Regions from separate parts of the Homo sapiens genome. Here region 1 is linked to region 2. A link means that fine-mapping ties the variant in region 2 to the expression of a gene that starts in the linked region. Tissue or cell type: nucleus accumbens. Region 2 holds a variant in brackets; the other region holds the start of a gene. All regions are shown on one strand. Distances are from middle to middle.

Region 1 (8,136 bases), 22 kb after region 2:
AGTTCTCGTTTTTATTATTTTATTCTGTGATGGCTGGAGAAGGGTCTCACCTGCCAGAGATCTGTGCAATTAAAAACACCCACAGCTGAACCGTTCAGGGGCTGGCAATTTTTTTTTTTTTTGAGATGGAGTCTCGCTCTGTTGCCCAGGCTGGCGTGCAGATGGGCGATCTCCGCTTCCTGCAGCCCTGACCTCCCGGGCTCAAGCGATAGGCCCACCTCAGTCTCCCGAGTAGCTCAGACCACAGGCGCACACCATAATATTCGGCTAATTTTTAAATTTTTTGTGGAGACCGGAGTCTCGCTATGTTGCCCAGGCTGGTCTCCAATTCCTGGGCTCAAGCGATCCTCCTGCCTTGGCTTCCCAAAGTGCTGGGATTACAGGCATGAGTCACCGCCCCCGGCCGGAGGTTGACGATTTTTGCAAAAATATGGAACATTTGGGATTTTCATTTCTTAGATTATCCTCCTTGCGCCGCTCCCTGCTCCCCCACCAAATAAAAAAAGAAAAACAAACAAAAAACAAAACAAACAAACAAAACGAAAGCCCTTTTATGACTACAAAACCCAAACGTCTCATCTGCGAGGTCACCACTTGGAAGGCACTGTCATGAGCCCTCAGACTTGCGATTCTTTAATCAGCATTCCTGAAACCTAGGTGTCCTTAGGATTTTTCATTTTTTGGTTTCTACAAACAGCTTTTCAGGGAAGCTGGCTTTGGGGATGAGGCCTAAGGGAGGCACCAGGGGCAGAAAAGAGGAGCTCCTGCCCTCGTCCTCCGTGGCGCCCCCACCCCCACCATCTCCCTGCAGCCTCGCCTCCGCCTCCGCCCCACCCGCTTAGTTTTGATCCGCGCGGAGGAGCGCGTCCCGTGGTTGCCATGGAGACCGCCGGACTGCGGAGGCCACAAACTGTGCGAAGGGGGAGGCGAGGGGCGGGGCCGCGGGAGGCCCGGGGGCTGAGCGCGGCGGCTGGGACTGAGCCAGGGAGAAAGAGGAGAAAAATCCAGCGAAGCCCAACGACCTGGCTCTGCAAGAGAAAAACAACCTGAATAAGCCGGTAATTGTGAACAGGCCGCTCGCTGAGACCTTAACGTCCCCTAAGCCCCCACATCTTTTCTTTCCCTCTGGCCCGTCTCTTTTTCCTCCGTTCCCTCTTTAAAAATTTGCCTGGTTCCTTTATGAGTTAAATAAGATCACATTTATTTATTTATTTGAGACGGAGTCTCGCTCTGTCGCCCAAGGTGGAGGGCAGTGGCGCGATCTTGGCTCACTGCAACCTCCGCCTCCCAGTTCAAGCGATTCTTCTGCCTCAGCCTCCCCAGTAGCTGGGATTACAGGCATGTGTCACCATGCCCGGCTAATTCTTATATTTTTGTTCGTTTCTTTTTTTTGTTTGTTTGTTTTTGAGACGGAGTTTCGCTCTTGTTGCCCAGGCTGGAGTGCAATGGCACGGTCTCAGCTCACTGCAACCTCTGAATCCCGGATTCAAACGATTCTCCTGCCTGAGCCTCCGGAGTAGCTGGGATTACAGGCATGCGCCACCAAGACAGGCTAGTTTTGTAGTTTTAGTAGAGGCGGGGTTTCACCATGTTGGCCAGGCTGGTCTCAAACTTCTGACCTCAGGTGATCCACCCGCTTCAGCCTCCCAAAATGCTGGGATTACAAGCGTGAGCCACCGCGCCCGGCAATTTTTGTATTTTTTAGTAGAGATGGGGTTTTGCCATGTTGACCAGGCTGGTCTCAAACTCCGGACCTCAGGTGATCCGCCCGCCTCAGCCTCCCAAAGTGCTGGATTAAAGGCGTGAGCCACGGCGCCCAGCCTGAGATGGAGAATTTTCAAAAGAGTAGAGACAGATCGGACCTAAGTTTTTAAAAGATGCCCCCAGCTTCTGGATGGGGCCTGGATTGCAAGCAGTGATGGGGAGGCGGGAAGCCCAGTGAGGGGGCTTTGTACACATCCAGGCAAGAGTGGCTGCAAGTATTGTGGCTGCTAAGTGGTTAAATGGTGCAACACATTTAGGAGAAGGGGATTAGCTGTGTCTTTAGCGTCAGCTAGTGTTTTAAATGCTAGTGCCCAAGATCTGGTTCTAATATTATATTAGATCCACCACTCAGAGCTGTGCAACTTCAGACCAGCCTCAGTTTCACCGTCTGTAAAAAGATGATTGATGGCACTGGCCTTACCATGTACCTCTGAGGGTTCCTAACAACGAGGCCTATTCAACATGTCTCTGGATGCCTGGTTCCAAAGATGTGGACCAATGCTAGTCGCATGTCCTGTAGCAGGAGGAGCCACGGACAAAACCCCTCAGACACTGGGTTAAGGAAGGATTTGGCTTTTTCGGCCGGGAGCTTCGGCAGACTCGCCTCTCAACTGGCGGGAGCTTCGGTAGACTCGCGTCTCAAGAACCGAGCTCCCGGCCGAATGCGACTAGCATTGGTTCACATCTTGATTCTTTTTTTTCTTTCTTTCTTTCTTTTTTTTTTTTTGAGACGGAGTCTTGCTCTGTCGTCCAGGCTGGAGTGCAGTGGTGCGATCGCGGCTCACTGCAACCTCCGCCTCCCGGGTTCAAGAGATTCTTCTGCCTCAGCCTCCCGAGTAGCTGGGACTACAGGCACGTACCACCACGCGCGGCTAATTTTTTTGCATTTTTAGTAGAGACAGGGTTTCACCGCGTTAGCCAGGATGGTCTTGTCTTGATCTCCTGACCTCGTGATCTGCCCGCCTCAGCCTCCCAAAGGGCTGGGATTACAGGCGTGAGCCACCGCGCCTGGCCATCTTGACTCTTTGGTCGACACAAAAGGCAGACTATTCTGGATTCAAATCCAAACTCAACCACTCCCCATGGCTGTGACCTTGAGAGTGTGGTTTTATGTCCTTGGGCCTCAGTTTCCTCAGCTGTCTAATGGGAATTGTACTCATGCTACCAGTCTCCTGTTATAGCAAGGATTTCCTGAGTTCATTCATAGAAAGCACTGGGAATGGTGCCTACTACATAGGAAGCGCCTCATAAACCGTGCCTATCCTTAGCCATCTCATTCTTTTTTCGAAGTTGCAAAATATTTCACTGTAAGATACTACCATAAAATAGAGGCAGTCTCTACTCGTGAACTTTTAGGGTTTTTTGTTGTTGTTTATTTGTAGGGGTTTTTTTGCACTTTTGTTTTTTTGAGACAGTCTCCCTCTGTTGCGCAGGCCGGAGTGCAGTGGCGCGATCTCTGCAACCTCCACCTCCCAGGTTCACGCCATTCTCCTGCCTCAGCCTCTCGCGTAGCTTGGGACTACGCACGCGCACCACCACACCCGGGGTAGAGACGAGGGTTTCACCATGTTGGGCAGGCTGGTCTCGAACTCCTGGCCTCAAGTGTTCCACCCACCTGGGCCTCCCAAAGTGCTGGCATTACAGGCATGAGCCACCGCGCCTGGCCATGAACATTTGGGTTTATTCATCCCCTCAAAAATATGTATTGAGCCCTGACCTGCCAAGCGCCACAGTGGGACTGTTGCAGTCAGGTACCCATTTCTCTACCCACGCATATAGGTGTACGGGTACCGATAGTCGCGTGAATTTAAAATGCTAATCTGTGGTGCCAGTGGCTCTCAAAAAGTAGAATCCACTAGCACACCCACCTCCCGGACTTGGCTGGAAACTTGCACATTTCGGATGGCAGGTTTGGGAACCGCTGCCTTTCAGGAAAGGTGCTGACGTGGGCCACTGCCGCTTCGCTGGGAAGCAATGGGCCCAGCTAGGCCCGGGGCGCGGCCACACCCCTGTGGGGGAGGGGAAGGAGGCCGCCCCGAAGGGAGTGGACAGCCCCCCTGTCAGTCTTCCAGAGTCTGGGAGTGTAAGATGAGACGGGGGAAGGTGGGCCTCATTCTGGCGGAGGGCGAGGAGGAACTTCCTGCCCGCGCGCTCCACGGTGCAGAGCTCTAAGCGCGCGGGCTGGCAGGCTGCGGCGCGTCAAGGTCAGCCTGGAGCTGGGTGGCGGCCTGCCTGGGGGCGGGGGACCCTACTGGAGGCCCGGGCTGGGGCCTCCCAGCGCCTCGGCCATATTGAATAGCTTCGACTGGACCGTCTTTGTCTGCGAAGTCCTGTCCCAAGTTCCAGCCGCGTCCCTGGGGCCTGGGGCAGGAAGAGTCGCTGGCAGCCCGCGCGCCCCAACTTGGAGCTGGGACACCACGTTTCCAGCTTGGAGTGGGCCTTGAGCCTTGGGACTGACCTCGCCCCCGGCTCACGTAGGCATCCTGGAAATTGATTCCCCCAAGTCCTTGGTGGGGGAGCCGGACTTGGTCAAGACTGTACTTGTTGCAGGCGAAGAGATTGGAGGCGTTTGGCTCGTCCCTGGCTAGGGAGGTGAGACTCTCCGGTCAGCGTTGCTGGAACTCCCCCCATCCAGTCCCTCCCTCAAGACTAAGGGCTACAGTAGTTTGTTGGGGCTCATTGCCCCCTCACCCCAGATATCACCCTGGAGATCTTAAAGACTCTCGAGAAAAGCCACGTGGGGGGCTGGTTCCCCTGGGGCTTCCTGCCGTCCCCCGACTGCCTCATTCTTTGGAGCGTCCCCGATGTCTGCAAAGATGTGGATTTGGACGTCCTCGTGGAAGCCCTAAAGCCCGTGGGGACATTTAAGAAGATCGGCAAGGTGTTCCGCAAGGAGGAGGACTCCACGGTGGGGATGCTGCAGATCGGGGAGGACGTCGACTATTTGCTCATCCCCCGGGAGGTCAGGCTGGCTGGGGGCGTCTGGAGAGTCATCTCTAAGCCCGCCACCAAGGAAGCAGAATTTCGGGAGCGGCTGACCCAGTTCCTGGAAGAAGAGGGCCGCACCCTGGAGGACGTGGCCCGCATCATGGAGAAGAGCACCCCGCACCCGCCCCAGCCCCCCAAAAAGCCCAAGGAGCCCCGAGTGAGGAGGAGAGTGCAGCAGATGGTGACTCCTCCGCCCCGGCTGGTCGTGGGCACGTACGACAGCAGCAACGCCAGCGACAGCGAGTTCAGCGACTTCGAGACCTCCAGAGACAAGAGCCGCCAGGGCCCGCGGCGGGGCAAGAAGGTGCGCAAAATGCCCGTCAGCTACCTGGGCAGCAAGTTCCTGGGAAGCGACCTGGAGAGTGAGGATGATGAGGAACTGGTCGAGGCCTTCCTCCGGCGACAGGAGAAGCAGCCCAGCGCGCCGCCTGCCCGCCGCCGCGTCAACCTGCCAGTGCCCATGTTTGAGGACAACCTGGGGCCTCAGCTGTCCAAAGCGGACAGGTGGCGGGAGTATGTCAGCCAGGTGTCCTGGGGGAAGCTGAAGCGGAGGGTGAAGGGTTGGGCGCCGAGGGCGGGCCCCGGGGTGGGCGAGGCCCGGCTGGCCTCCACCGCAGTGGAGAGCGCAGGGGTATCATCGGCGCCAGAGGGCACCAGCCCGGGGGATCGCTTGGGAAACGCGGGAGATGTTTGTGTGCCCCAGGCTTCCCCTAGGCGATGGAGGCCCAAGATCAACTGGGCCTCCTTTCGGCGCCGCAGGAAGGAGCAGACAGCACCCACAGGTCAGGGGGCAGACATCGAGGCTGATCAGGGGGGAGAGGCTGCAGATAGTCAAAGGGAAGAGGCCATAGCTGACCAGCGGGAAGGGGCTGCAGGTAATCAGAGGGCAGGGGCCCCAGCTGACCAGGGGGCAGAGGCTGCAGATAATCAGAGGGAAGAGGCTGCAGATAATCAGAGGGCAGGGGCCCCAGCTGAGGAGGGGGCAGAGGCTGCAGATAACCAGAGGGAAGAGGCTGCAGATAATCAGAGGGCAGAGGCCCCAGCTGACCAGAGGTCACAGGGCACAGATAACCACAGGGAAGAGGCTGCAGATAATCAGAGGGCGGAGGCCCCAGCTGACCAGGGGTCAGAGGTTACAGATAATCAAAGGGAAGAGGCCGTACATGACCAGAGGGAAAGGGCCCCAGCTGTCCAGGGTGCAGATAATCAGAGGGCACAGGCCCGGGCTGGCCAGAGGGCAGAGGCTGCACATAATCAGAGGGCAGGGGCCCCAGGTATCCAGGAAGCTGAAGTCTCAGCTGCCCAAGGGACCACAGGAACAGCTCCAGGAGCCAGGGCCCGGAAACAGGTCAAGACAGTGAGGTTCCAGACCCCTGGACGCTTTTCGTGGTTTTGCAAGCGCCGGAGAGCCTTCTGGCACACTCCCCGGTTGCCAACCCTGCCCAAGAGAGTCCCCAGGGCAGGAGAGGCCAGGAACCTCAGGGTGCTGAGGGCCGAGGCCAGAGCAGAAGCTGAGCAGGGAGAGCAAGAAGACCAGCTGTGAGGTGAGGGCTAGAGACAGCCCACGGGCCCTCCCTCCAAGTGTGGGAGGGAGAGATGCTCTGCCTCTGAACTTCAAAGTGGAGGTGGAGTGCTGGCCACGTCTCCACCTAACAACCCTCTTTATTCTCTTGTTAAAGTTTTGTTCATGCTTTGATTTTTTTTTAAATTTTTTAGAGACAGGGTCTCACTCTGTTGCCCAGGCTGGAGTGCAGTGGCATGATCATAACTCACTGCAGCCTCAAACTTCTGGCCTCAAGTGATCCTCCTGCCTCGGCCTCCCAAAATGCTGGGATTACAGATGTGAGCCACCACACACACCATCTGATTAAAAAAAAAAAATACTGATTCCTTGTAGCAACCCAAAAAATGTAAAGAAAGAATTCGACACAATGGGGTTGCGTCACCTATAGTTTTCATTTCCTCAAATGCAACTCAAGGTGCTCAGCTTGATAAAGGGAGAGAGGGAGGGCAGGGGAGAAACTGACTCCTTTTTCCATCTCTTTTTTGCCTGCACACTTAATGTGGACTGCCTCCTTGGACTTAAAAAGAGTTGAGCCAACATGCAAATCAAAAAACATTTATGAACTGATTTCTTAGCTTTGGACTTGACAACTGACGAATGCTCTGGGGGTGACCTGGCCCTTGCTGTCCGTTCCACTCCCATCCTTGATGATGGAGACACCTGTGTTTATGTTGTCACTTCGCTTGCCATCCTCATGCCCCGGGCTCTGCTGGTTTGGAGGGGACAGGGCCCTTGGTTTGCACACCTCACCCGATCTTGGTTATAAGGTACAGTAAAAGCGTCTGAAAAATGCATTCAAAACACAGATTCTGGGGCCCTCGGCACCAGAGGTGTGGATTTGCTAGCGGTGCCTGTGTGGCTCTGAATTCTGTTTGCATCAAGCTCCACGGACATCTGGGCAACTCGGCCACTGGACACATTGAAAAATCATTGCAATAGGAAAAGGCCCAAAAGAGGGGCTGTGGTTGGCCGGGCATGGTGGCTCACGCCTGTAATCCCAGCACTTAGGGAGGCCAAGGCGGGTGGATCACGAGGTCAAGAGATCGAGACCATCCTGGCCAACGTGGTGAAACCCCGTCTCTAATAAAAATACAAAAATTAGACTGGCCTTGTGGCGCACGCCTGTAGTCCCAGCTACTCTGGAGGCTGAGGCAAGAGAATCTCTTGAACCCAGGAGGTGGAGGTTGCAGTGAGCCGAGATTGTGCCATTGCACTCCAGCCTAGTGACACAGTGAGACTCTGTCTCAAAAAAAAAAAAAAAAAAAAAAAAAAAAAGAGGCTGTGTGTATTGTGCATTAATTGCTGCTGCATTTTTTTTTTTCTTTTTGGAGATGGAATCTCACTCTCTGTCTCCCAGGCTGGAGTGCAGTGGCACGATCTCGGCTCACTGCCATCTCCGCCTCCCTGGTTCAAGCGATTCTCCTCCCTCAGCCTCCCGAATAGCTGGGACTACAGGTGTGTGCCACCACACCTGGCTAATTTTTGTATTTTTAGTAGAGATGAGGTTTCACCATATTGGCCAAGCTTGTCTTGAACTCCTAACCTCAGCTGATCTGCCCACCTCTGCTTCCCAAAGTGCTGGGATTACAGGCATGAGCCACTGCACGCGGCCAACTGCTTCCTATAATTGGGAAGAAACTGGGTTGCTAAAGCCCTGTGGAGGTTAGGAGGAAGCTGGGGGCCTGTATTGCCTTGTGTCCCCACAACCCCTAGCAGTGAAAAACAGCAAATGACCACACTCTAGCCTTGCTGAGGGCAGGAGAAAAGAGAGTTCGTGGAGGTCCAAAGGCCAGTCTGTCTTCCTAACTGGTTGCAGGCCT
Region 2 (10,772 bases):
GGCAAACTCCTATAACGCCCTCAGTTACCTCATCAAACCTCCCCACCTTGGGTGTTCCATCTCACCCAGAGAAAAGTCCCAAGTCCCCACCAGGAGCTTTGAGGTCTTGTAAGATCTGGCTGTCACCTCCTCTCTTGCGCGGCCTGCTTTTTCTTGGGCTTTCTTCTCAACACTCCCTTGCTCCCTCTGCTGCCAGGCACCACGGGTTTCTGCTGTTCTTCAAGTACACCAGGCAGGCTCCAGCCTCAGGGCCTTTGCACTGACTTTTTTTTTTTCTTTTTTTTTTGAGAAGAAGTCTCGCTCTGTCACCCAGGCTGGAGTGCAGTGGCGGGATCTCGGCTCACTGCAAGCTCCGCCTCCCAGGTTCAAGCCATTCTCCTGCCTCAGCCTCCCGAGTAGCTGGGACTACAAGCGCCCGCCACCACGCCCGGCTAATTTTTTGTATTTTAGTAGAGACAGGATTTCACCATGTTGCCCAGCTAGTCTTGAACTCCTGAGCTCAGGCAATCCACCCGCCTTGGCCTCCCAAAGTGCTGGGATTACAGGCATGAGCCACCATACCCAGCTGGGAATTTACATTTTAACAGTGGAATTTCATATCATTGAAAACGAGATGGACTTTTCTCCATAAAACTAAGACACTCAATAGCCATCTGGAAAGGTATAAAGTTAGAGGTAGATTGGAGATTTATTATTTATTTATTTTTTTTTTTTTTAATTTTTTTTGAGAGAGAGTCTTACTCTGTCACTTAGGCTGGAGTGCAGTGGCATCATCTCGGCTCACTGCAACCTCCACCTCCTGGGTGGAGGCGATTCTCCTGCCTCAGCCTCCCAAGTAGCTGGGATTACAGGCGTGCGCCACCATCCTCAGCCTAGATTGCAGATTTAAATGTCAAAAACGACACCTCAGGCAGGGCGTGGTGGCTCACGCCTGTAATCCCAGCACTTTGAGAGGCCGAGGCAAGTGTATCACCTGAGGTCAGGAGTTCGTGACCAGCCTGGGCAACATGTTGAGACCCCCATCTCTACTAAAAATACAAAAATTAGCTGGGTGTGGTGGTGTGCTCCTGTAATCCCAGCTACTTGGGAGGCTGAGGCAGGAGAATGGCTTGAACCCGGGAGGCAGAGATTGCAGTGAGCCAGGATGACGCCACTGCACTCCAGCCTGGGTGACAGAGAGAGACCCTGTCTCAAAAAGAAAAAAAAGTTCATAACTCATGTAAGTTATGAGTGGCTAAATTCCTGGCATTACATTCTATTTGTATTAATAGCTATTGGGCTCACTGTTAACACAAGGTTTGGAACAGAGCCAGAGTTAAATGTATAAATATATACATTTGCTGTGTGAAGGATTAATTGTTCCTTTTCAACTCTCAGAAACCTACATCCTCCTACTCCAACATCATTCCTGACTGGCAAACTCCTATAACGCCCTCAGTTACCTCATCAAACCTCCCCACCTTGGGTGTTCCATCTCACCCAGAGAAAAGTCCCAAGTCCCCACCAGGAGCTTTGAGGTCTTGTAAGATCTGGCTGTCACCTCCTCTCTTGCGCGGCCTGCTTTTTCTTGGGCTTTCTTCTCAACACTCCCTTGCTCCCTCTGCTGCCAGGCACCACGGGTTTCTGCTGTTCTTCAAGTACACCAGGCAGGCTCCAGCCTCAGGGCCTTTGCACTGACTTTTTTTTTTTCTTTTTTTTTTGAGAAGAAGTCTCGCTCTGTCACCCAGGCTGGAGTGCAGTGGCGGGATCTCGGCTCACTGCAAGCTCCGCCTCCCAGGTTCAAGCCATTCTCCTGCCTCAGCCTCCCGAGTAGCTGGGACTACAAGCGCCCGCCACCACGCCCGGCTAATTTTTTGTATTTTAGTAGAGACAGGATTTCACCATGTTGCCCAGCTAGTCTTGAACTCCTGAGCTCAGGCAATCCACCCGCCTTGGCCTCCCAAAGTGCTGGGATTACAGGCGTGAGCCGCCGTGCCCGGCCGCACTGACTGTTCCTTCTGCTTGGAACACAGTTCCCTCACATGTTCACAAGGTGGCTCTCTCACCTCCTTCAGGTCTTTGCTCCAAATGTCACCTCCATGAAACCTTTACTTGGCACACTGTAAATTATAACATCCTCTCCCAATACACACTCTCTATGCCTGTCTCTCTCGCTCTGTCTCTCTCTTTTTTTTTTTTTTTTTTTGAGACAGAGTCTCGCTCTGTTGCCCAGGCTGGAGTGCAGTGGCGCGATCTCGGCTCACTGCAAGCTCCGCCTCCCGGGTTCACGCCATTCTCCTGCCTCAGCCTCCCGAGTAGCTGGGACTTCAGGCGCCCGCCACCATGCCCGGCTAATTTTTTGTATTTTTAGTGGAGACGGGGTTTCACTGTGTTAGCCAGGATGGTCTCCATCTCTTGATCTCGTGATCCGCCCACCTCGGCCTCTCAAAGTGCTGGGATTACAGGCGTGAGCCACCATGCCCGGCCCTCTGTCTGTCTTTTTAATTTAATTTTTTCTTTTGAGATGGGATCTCACTCTGTCTCCCAGGCTGGAGTGCAGTGGTATCATCATAGCTCACTGCAGCCTGGGGTCTCACTTTGTTGCCCAGGCTGGTCTCAAACTCCTGGGCTCAAGTAGTCCTCCTGCCTTGGCCTCCTAAAGTGGCGGGATTACAGGCGTGAGTCCTGGCCCTTCTCTGTCTTTCCTGCTTTATTTTTCCCCGTAACCAATCCTGATCACCACATGACATATTATATATCTTATTTATTTGTCCCTGCTCTGTCGGCCCAATACAGTGTCAGCTTTTGGAAATCAGGGGATTTTGTCCATCTCATTCATTGCTCTATCCCCAGAACCTAGACTCTAACCAACAAGTAACTTAGCCAAGGCCGGGCGCGGTGGGTCACGCCTGCAATCCCAGCACTTTGGGAGGCTGAGGCAAGTGGATCACTTGAGGTCAGGAGTTCAAGACCAGCCTGGCCAACATAGTGAAACCTTGACTCTACTAAAAATACGAAGAAAATAGCCAGGCGTGGTGGCTCACGCCTGTAATACCATCTACTCAGGAGACTGAGGCAGGAGAATCGCTTGAACCTGGGAAGCGGAGGTTGCATTGAGCCGAGATCACACCACTGCCCTCCAGCCTGGGCAATAAAGTGAGATTCCATCTCAAAAATAAAATAATAATAATAAATATATATATATAGATTATTTAAAAAAAAAAAAAAACTCCATCGTCCAGGCGCGGTGGCTCACGCCTGTGATCCCAGCACTTTGGGAGGCTGAGGCAGGCAGATCAAGAGGTCAGGAGATCGAGACCACCTTGGCTAACATGGTGAAACCCCGTCTCTACTAAAAATACAAAAAATTAGCCAGGCGTGGTGGCAGGCGCCTGTAGTCCCAGCTACTTGGGAGGCTGAGGCAGGAGAATGGCATGAACCTGAGAGGCGGAGCTTGCAGTGAGCTGAGATCGGCCACTGCACTGTAGCCTGGGTGACAGAATGAGACTGCATCTCAAAAAAAAAAAAAGCCACCAACAAAAAACAAGTAACTAAGCTATTACATGTGGTGTGATAATATGCTAATTTCCTTTATCTGTAAAGCTTTTTTACTCTTCAGCAAAAAAGGAAACCCCATTTTTTAATAAAAATGGGTAAAAGATACAAACAGAAAATTCATGGAAAAAAATTAAGCTAAATCAAATTGTAAAAATCTCGGCCAGGCGTGGTAGCTCATGCCTGTAATCCCAGCACTTTGGGAGGTCGAGGTGGGCAGATCACCTAAGCTCAGGAGTTCGAGATCAGCCTGGCCAACATGGAGAAACCCCCCTCTCTACCAAAAATACAAAAATTAGCTGGGCGTAATGGTGGGGACCTGTAATTCCAGCTACTCGGGAGGCTGAGGCAGGAGAATCACTTGAACCTGGGAGGCGGATGTTGCAGTGAGCTGAGATCCCGCCATTGCACTCCAGCCTGGGTGACAGAGCGAGGCTCCGTCTCAAAAAAAAAAAAAAAAAAAAAAAAAAAAAAAAGGCCAGGCGCGGTGGCTCACGCCTGTAATCCCAGCACTTTGGGAGGCTGAGGCGGGCGGATCACGAGGTTAGGAGATCGAGACCGTCCTGGCTAACGTGGTGAAACCCCGTCTCTACTAAAAAAAATACAAAAAATTAGCCAGGCGTGGTGGCGGGCACCTGTAGTCCCCGCTACTCGGGAGGCTGAGGCAGGAGAATGGAGTGAACCCGGGAGGCGGAAGTTGCAGTGAGCCAAGATCGCGCCACTGCACTCCAGGCTGGGCCACAGAGCGAGAGTTCGTCCCCCCAAAAAAAAAAAACAAAACTCATTTGGCCAGGCATAATGGCTCATACCTGTAATCCCAGCACTTTGGGAGACTGAGCCAGGAGGATTGCTTGAGCTCAGGAGTTTGAGACCAGCCTGGGCAACATAGTGAGACTCTGTCTCTACAAAAAAAAAAAAAAAAAAAAATTAAGTTAGCTAGGTGTGGTGGCATGCGCCTATAGTCTCGGTTACTCAGGAGGCTGAGGTGGGAAGATTGCTTGAGCCTGGGAGGTTGAGGCTGCAGTGAGCCATGATTGCGCCACTGCATTCCGGCCTGGGCAACAGAGCAAGACCCTATCTCAAAAAAAAAAAATCTCACTAGCTGTGTGGCCCCAGGTAAGTGATTTAACCTCTCTGGTCCTCAGTTTTCCTGACTATAAGATACAGGAACTATTCAATAAATACTTGTTGAATGAATAAATGATTGAATCAATAAAACATCTAACTCATGGACTGTTGTAAAAATTAGATGACTTAGTACACATAGAAGGCTTAGAATATTTTAGTATGCCCTATGCAAAAGTTAGCAGTTATTACTTTTTAAAATAGTATTATTTGTGGTTATTATATGCATCCATCAAGATTTCTCTCAAATGTCACCTCCTGCGGGAAGCCTTCCCAGATGAGACCAGACAGATGAATTCCTTTATGGAGAATTAATCAGAGACGTTGAAGAGTGAATTAATAAAAAGGTTACTGATACAGTAATTATGTCAGTCAGGTATCTCAGGGCCGCCAAAGGACTTTATGCGGTTCTCTCTTTAAACTCTAGCAAAACATGTTCCAGGAAAACTAAGCCCACTTGATATATTCTGTATTCTACACCCCACACCAGGATCGGAACACATCGTAGTAATTATAGGGCTTCTCTCCCTGCCTGTAAACAGACTGAGCCAGCCTGTCGTAACCACTGGACTGAGCTCCTCAAAGCAGAGCCT[G/A]TCTCCCTCACTCAAGTATGCCCAGCACGTTACCCAAGCCTAGAACAAGGACACTTCTCAGTAAATCCTGGTGGATCAAATAAATGAACCATTCTCTTCCCTTGCTTCTCAATTGGGAACATGCATAAGCCCAGGGATATGCAATGGCGTGTCAAGGATTCATAAACTCGTGGCAAATATTTTGGATCAACAATTTTACTTCATCTTTGGAAGGAAAACTCATCTTTGTATTAAAATGGTCATGTCATGGAGTCGAATGTGAATTTTTTTTTTTTTTTTTTTTTTGAGACAGAGTCTCACTCTGTCACCCAGGCTGGAGTGCAGTGGCGCAATCTTGGCTCACTGCAATCTCCACCTGCCAGGTTCAAGTGATTCTCCTGCCTCAGTCTCCCAAGTAGCTGGGATTACTGGTGTGTGCCAACACACCCGGCTAATTTTTGTATTTTTACCAGAGATGGGGTTTTGTCATGTTGGCCAGGCTGGTCTCGAACTCCTGACCTCAGGTAATCCACCCGCCTCAGCCTCCCAAAGTGCTGGGATTACAGGTGTGAGTCACCACGCCCGGCTCGAATGCAAAATTTTTTATGACAAAATTAGACTTAAAAGAAATCTCTGTGGAAGAGCTGGTTCCTAAAACCCCTAAATGAGAGGGCACACTTCCCTTGTTTTCTCTCTACTGGAAAACCTGAAAAGTAGTATGTTAGTGCAACTGATGTTTATAAAGGAAGAGTCATGGTTGTTCAGGATTGGTCCGTGTTAAGCAGAAGGAGGTCTGCTATGAGCCACGTGGGATAAGAAACATTATGTGATTGGATCTTAGACAATTGGGGGTGAATCTGGGGAGGTGAGGACCCAGAAAGGGATGGTGGTCAAAACTAAAATAAGATAAAGATATCCATCTCACCCCAGTTAAAATAGCTTATATCTGGCCAGATGCAATTGCTCACGCCTGTAATCCCAGCACTTTGGGAGGCTGAGGCGGGCAGATCACCTGGGGTCGGGAGTTCACGACCAGCCTGACCAACATGGAGAAACGCTGTCTCTACCAAAAATACAAAAAATTAGCCAGGCGTGGTGGAGCATGCCTGTAATCCCAGCTACTCATGAGGCTGAGGCAGGAGAATTGCTTGAACCTGAGAGGCGGAGGTTGCAGTGAGCCGAGATTGCACCATTGCACTCCAGCCTGGGCAACAAGAGTGAAACTCCGTCTCAAAAAAAAAAAAAAAAGCTTATATCCAAAAGACAGCAAAGAACAAATGCTGGTGGAGAAAAGGGAACCCTCATACTCTGTTGGTGGGAATGTAAATTGGAGGTTCCTCAAAACTAAAAATTAAGCTAAAAATTGATCCTGCCATCCCACTGCTGGGTATATACCCAAAAGAAAGGAAATCAGTAGATTAAGGAGATCTCTGCACTCCCATATTTTTTGCAGCACTGTCCACGACAGTGAAGATTTGGAAACAACCTGAGTGTCCATCAACAGAAGAATGGATACAGAAAATGTGGTGCTTATACACAATGGAGTACTATTCAGCCATGAAAAAGAATGAGATCCTGCCATTTGCAAAAACGTGGATGGAACTGGAGGTCATTATGTTAAGTGAAATAAGCCAGGCACAGAAAGACAAACGGCATGTTCTCATTTATTTGTGGGAATTAAAATAATCAAAACAATTGAACGAGGACAGGCATGTTGGCTCACGCCTGTAATCCCAGCACTCTGGGAGGCCGAGGCGGGTGGATCACTTGAGGTCAGGAGTTCCAGACCAGCCTGGCTGACATGGTGAAACCCCATCTCTACTAATACAAAAATTAGCCAGGCGTGGTGGCGCGTGCCTGTAATCTCAGCTGCTAGGGAGGCTGAGGCATGAGAATCACTTGAACCTGGGAGGCAGAGGTTGCAGTGAGCCAAGATCGCACCATTACACTCCAGCCTGGGCGACAGAGTGAGACTCCATCTCGAAACAAAACAAAACAAAAAAAGCAGTTTTTTTTTTTTTTTTAACATATAGACAGAAGGTTACCAGAGGCTGGGAAGGGTCGTCGGCGGGATGGATGGGGGAGGTGGGGATGGTTAATGGGTACAATACTCAACACAAATAGAAAGAATGAATAAGACATACTATTTGATAGCACAACAGGATGACTATTGTTAATAATAATAGTACATTTCAAAATAGCTAAATGAATGTAATTGGATTGTTTGTCACACAAAGGATAAGTTCTTAAGGGGATGGCGACTTCATTCTCCACAATGTGATTATTTCTCATTGCATGCCTGTATCAAATATCTTGTGAACCCCATACATATATACAGCTACCATGTACCCGCACAATTAAAAATTAAAAATTTAAAAATAAACTATATTCGTGATGGCAAAATAATAATAATAATATAGGGATGGCGAGATCTTGTTTAAAAGTTACTGAGGCTGGGCGTGGTGGCTCAGGCCTGTAATCCCAACACTTTGGGAGGCCGAGGTGGGAGAATCACTTGAACTCAGGAGTTTGATACCAGCCTGGGCAACATAGAGAGACCCTTATCTCCAAAAAAAAAAAAAAAAAAAAAAAATTACTAACCAGGGAGCGCTAGGGTTGCTGGAGGAGGGGTGTATCAAAGTTTTTTTTTCTGTGACTAGTATTGGGTTTTAAGTCTCTGTAGGCCAGTCTGCTGGGCAATTTAGAAACTGAACCGGGACAGAGAGGACAAATTGGAACCTACAAGAACAATCTAGGCCAGGTGCGGTGGCTCACTCCTGCAATCCCAGCATTTTTGGAGATTGAGGCAGGCGGATCATTTGAAGTCAGGAGTTCGAGACCAGCCTGGCCAACATGGTGAAACCCCATCTCTATGAAAATACAAAAATTAGCTGGGCATGATGGCGGGTGCCTGTAATCCCAGCTACTCAGGAGGCTGAGGCCGGAGAATCGCTTGAACCCGGGAGGTGGAGGTTGCAGTGAGCAGAGATGGCACCATTGCATTCCAGCCTGAGCAACAGAGCGAGATTCCGTCTCAAAAAAAAAAAAAAAAAAAAAAAAAAATTAGAATCCTTGAAGACAAACTGGAACCCCCGCCCCCAACCAACGTCTCTTTTCCCACCTTCAACCTCAATTCCACGCTTGACCTGCAGGGGAAGCTGGTGCCTTTTGCCCCCACAGAGCTGCTCCGGTGCTGGCCCCAAGTTCACCGACGCTGAAAAGGAGACCGGCAGGAGCAGGTGGAGTCCCAGAGGCTGCCCCAAGCCAATAAGGTGAGCCCACAGACCAGTCATGAAATGCATGAGCCATGTGGCACCCTGTGCAGACCTTCTCACAGCACCAGCCGCTGTGTAAATCTAATGCACATTTCTCTTTTAGACGACTCTAACCAACAGCCACCTGCAGAAAGCTATTCTAGGACACACAAGCCCAGCTTAGCTAAACTGGCACTGAACAAAATCAACATACAGCCCAGAGAGGGAACTGTCATCCAGAAACTTCACGACAGAACAGGAACTAAGCCGCGTGACACAATATGGGACCCCTTTCTCAGGGAACTCCATGGTATTGTATAATGTTAAATCTGTGCGCCCAGGAGTCAGGGTGCTGAGGCGGGAAGTCTAGCTTTGCCATTCACTAGCTGTGTGACCTTAGGTAAGTGAATTAACCTCTCTGATCTTCGGTTTTCCTGACTATAAAACCGGAGGCATCAGGCCGGGCGCGGTGGCTCACGCCTGTAATCCCAGCACTTTGAGAGGCCAAGACGTGCAGATCACGAGGTCAGGAGATCGAGACCATCCTGGCTAACACGGTAAAACCCCGTCTCTACTAAAAATACAAAAAAATTAGCCGGGCCTAGTGGTGGGCGCCTGTAGTCCCAGCTACTCGGGAGGCTGAGGCAGAAGAATGGCGTGAACCCGGGAGGCGGAGCTTGCAGTGAGCCGAGATCGTGCCATTGTACTCTAGCCTGGGCAACAAGAGCAAAACTCCATCTCAGGAAAAAAAAAAATCTAGTATTGATGAGCATGTGGCGAAACTGGATTTTTTTTTTTTACACTGTTTGGTGGGAGAATAAAATGGTACGACCAGTTTGGGAAACTTGTAGAATCTGCTAAGGCATTTGTTCAGGCTTAAAACTAATGGATATGTACATATATGTTCACCAAGAAACATAGACCACGTAATATGTGATTCCATTTATGTAAAATACAAAAACAGGCAAAACTAACCTATGCTGTTGAAAGTCAAGATAGTGGCTTCCCTTAAGAGGATATAGTGATTTGGAGAAAGCACAGGATATCCTCTGGGAATGCTATGATGTTCATTTACTGATTTGGGTGCTGGTTACACCATGTGTTCAGTTAATGGATTTTCATTTATAATTCGTGCACTTCTGACTACGTGTAAAAACAAAGTTTCAGGGGATGTCGGTTTCAGGTGTTGTTTGATCCTGAGGCATATGATGTCTTCCTGACTATGGCCTGGTTTCTGGTTGTTCCCTCAACTCTGCCTTCCTCTAGATGCAAAGTTCATCCTCAAAGTGTTTATTGGCTGGACGCGGTGGTTCATGCCTGTAAGCCCAGCACTTTGGGAGGCCGGGGCAGGTGGATCACTTGAGGTCAGGAGTTTGAGACCAGCCTGGACAACATGGTGAAACCCTGTCTCTACTAAAAACACAAAAAGTTAGCCGGGCGTGGTGGCGGGCGCCTGTAATCTCAGCTGTTTTACAGGCTGGGGCAGGAGAATTGCTTGAACCTGAGAGGTTGAGGTTGCAGTGAGTCGAGATCGCGCCACTGCACTCCAGCCTGGGCGACAGAGCAAGACTCTGTCTGAAAGAAAGAAGGAAAGAAAGAAAAAAGAAGGAAGGAAGGAAGGAAGGAAGGAAGGAAGGAAGGAAGGAAGGAAGAGAGTTTGTCATGCTTCCAAGACAGCCTCCTGTAGCTCCTATACTTAGTCTTTCACGTCTAGGAGGAAAGAGAGAGTCTTCCTCCGCTTACCAGTTGCAGAAATCCTTACCTTCATTCTGACTGGACTTACTGAGTTCACGTGTCTAACCTTTAACCAATCTCAGAGAAGAGGGGCATATTAAGCACTAATTGCTTTTTGTCCAGGTTACCTGGGTGACCATTTCTGAACCAATCACTGTGGGAAGGAGGGTGAGATTATGCTAATTGGTTCAAGCCAATCAGGGCTTATCCCTGGAACTGGGGGTATAAAGGGTGTCGACCTAACCCAAATGTTTTGGCTTTATTAATGGGGACTGGGGAGGAGAGGAATAGACATTGTGGATGTCATCACATGGGGGAGACATTTCTTATTTATTTTTAAACATTTATTTGAAACAACCATAAACCTACAGAAGAGTTGCAAATATAGTATAAAGAATGTTTTCGCGGCCAGGTGCAATGGCTGTGGCCTGTAATCCTAGCATTTTGGGAGGCCGAAGTGGATGGATCACCTGAGGTTGGGAGTTCAAGACCAGCCTGGCCGACATGGTGAAACTACATCTCTACTAAAAATACAAAAATTAGCTGAGCTTGG

The links. PIP is the estimated chance that this variant, and not a neighbour inherited with it, causes the effect.
Region 1: CCDC8 starts here. The variant in region 2 is fine-mapped to the expression of CCDC8 in nucleus accumbens (GTEx, PIP above 0.99). The same link has a PIP of 0.9 or more in amygdala, cerebral cortex, hypothalamus, prefrontal cortex and putamen.

What each region holds. Positions count from the first base shown.
Region 1 is chr19:46,409,353-46,417,488 of GRCh38, reverse strand. CCDC8 (coiled-coil domain containing 8 subunit of 3M complex) reads left to right here and starts at 3,925. Exons shown (of 1, transcript NM_032040.5): 1 at 3,925-7,160. The coding sequence starts at 4,679. The coding sequence ends at 6,295. RefSeq lists a silencer at 869-958 and enhancers at 1,385-2,217, 2,218-3,051, 4,718-5,551.
Region 2 is chr19:46,429,707-46,440,478 of GRCh38, reverse strand. No RefSeq gene overlaps it. Among named protein-coding and RNA genes, the nearest start is that of PNMA8C, 6.2 kb to the right of the region's middle. RefSeq lists a silencer at 5,901-6,101. The variant G/A (reference allele first, on the strand shown) is at 5,253.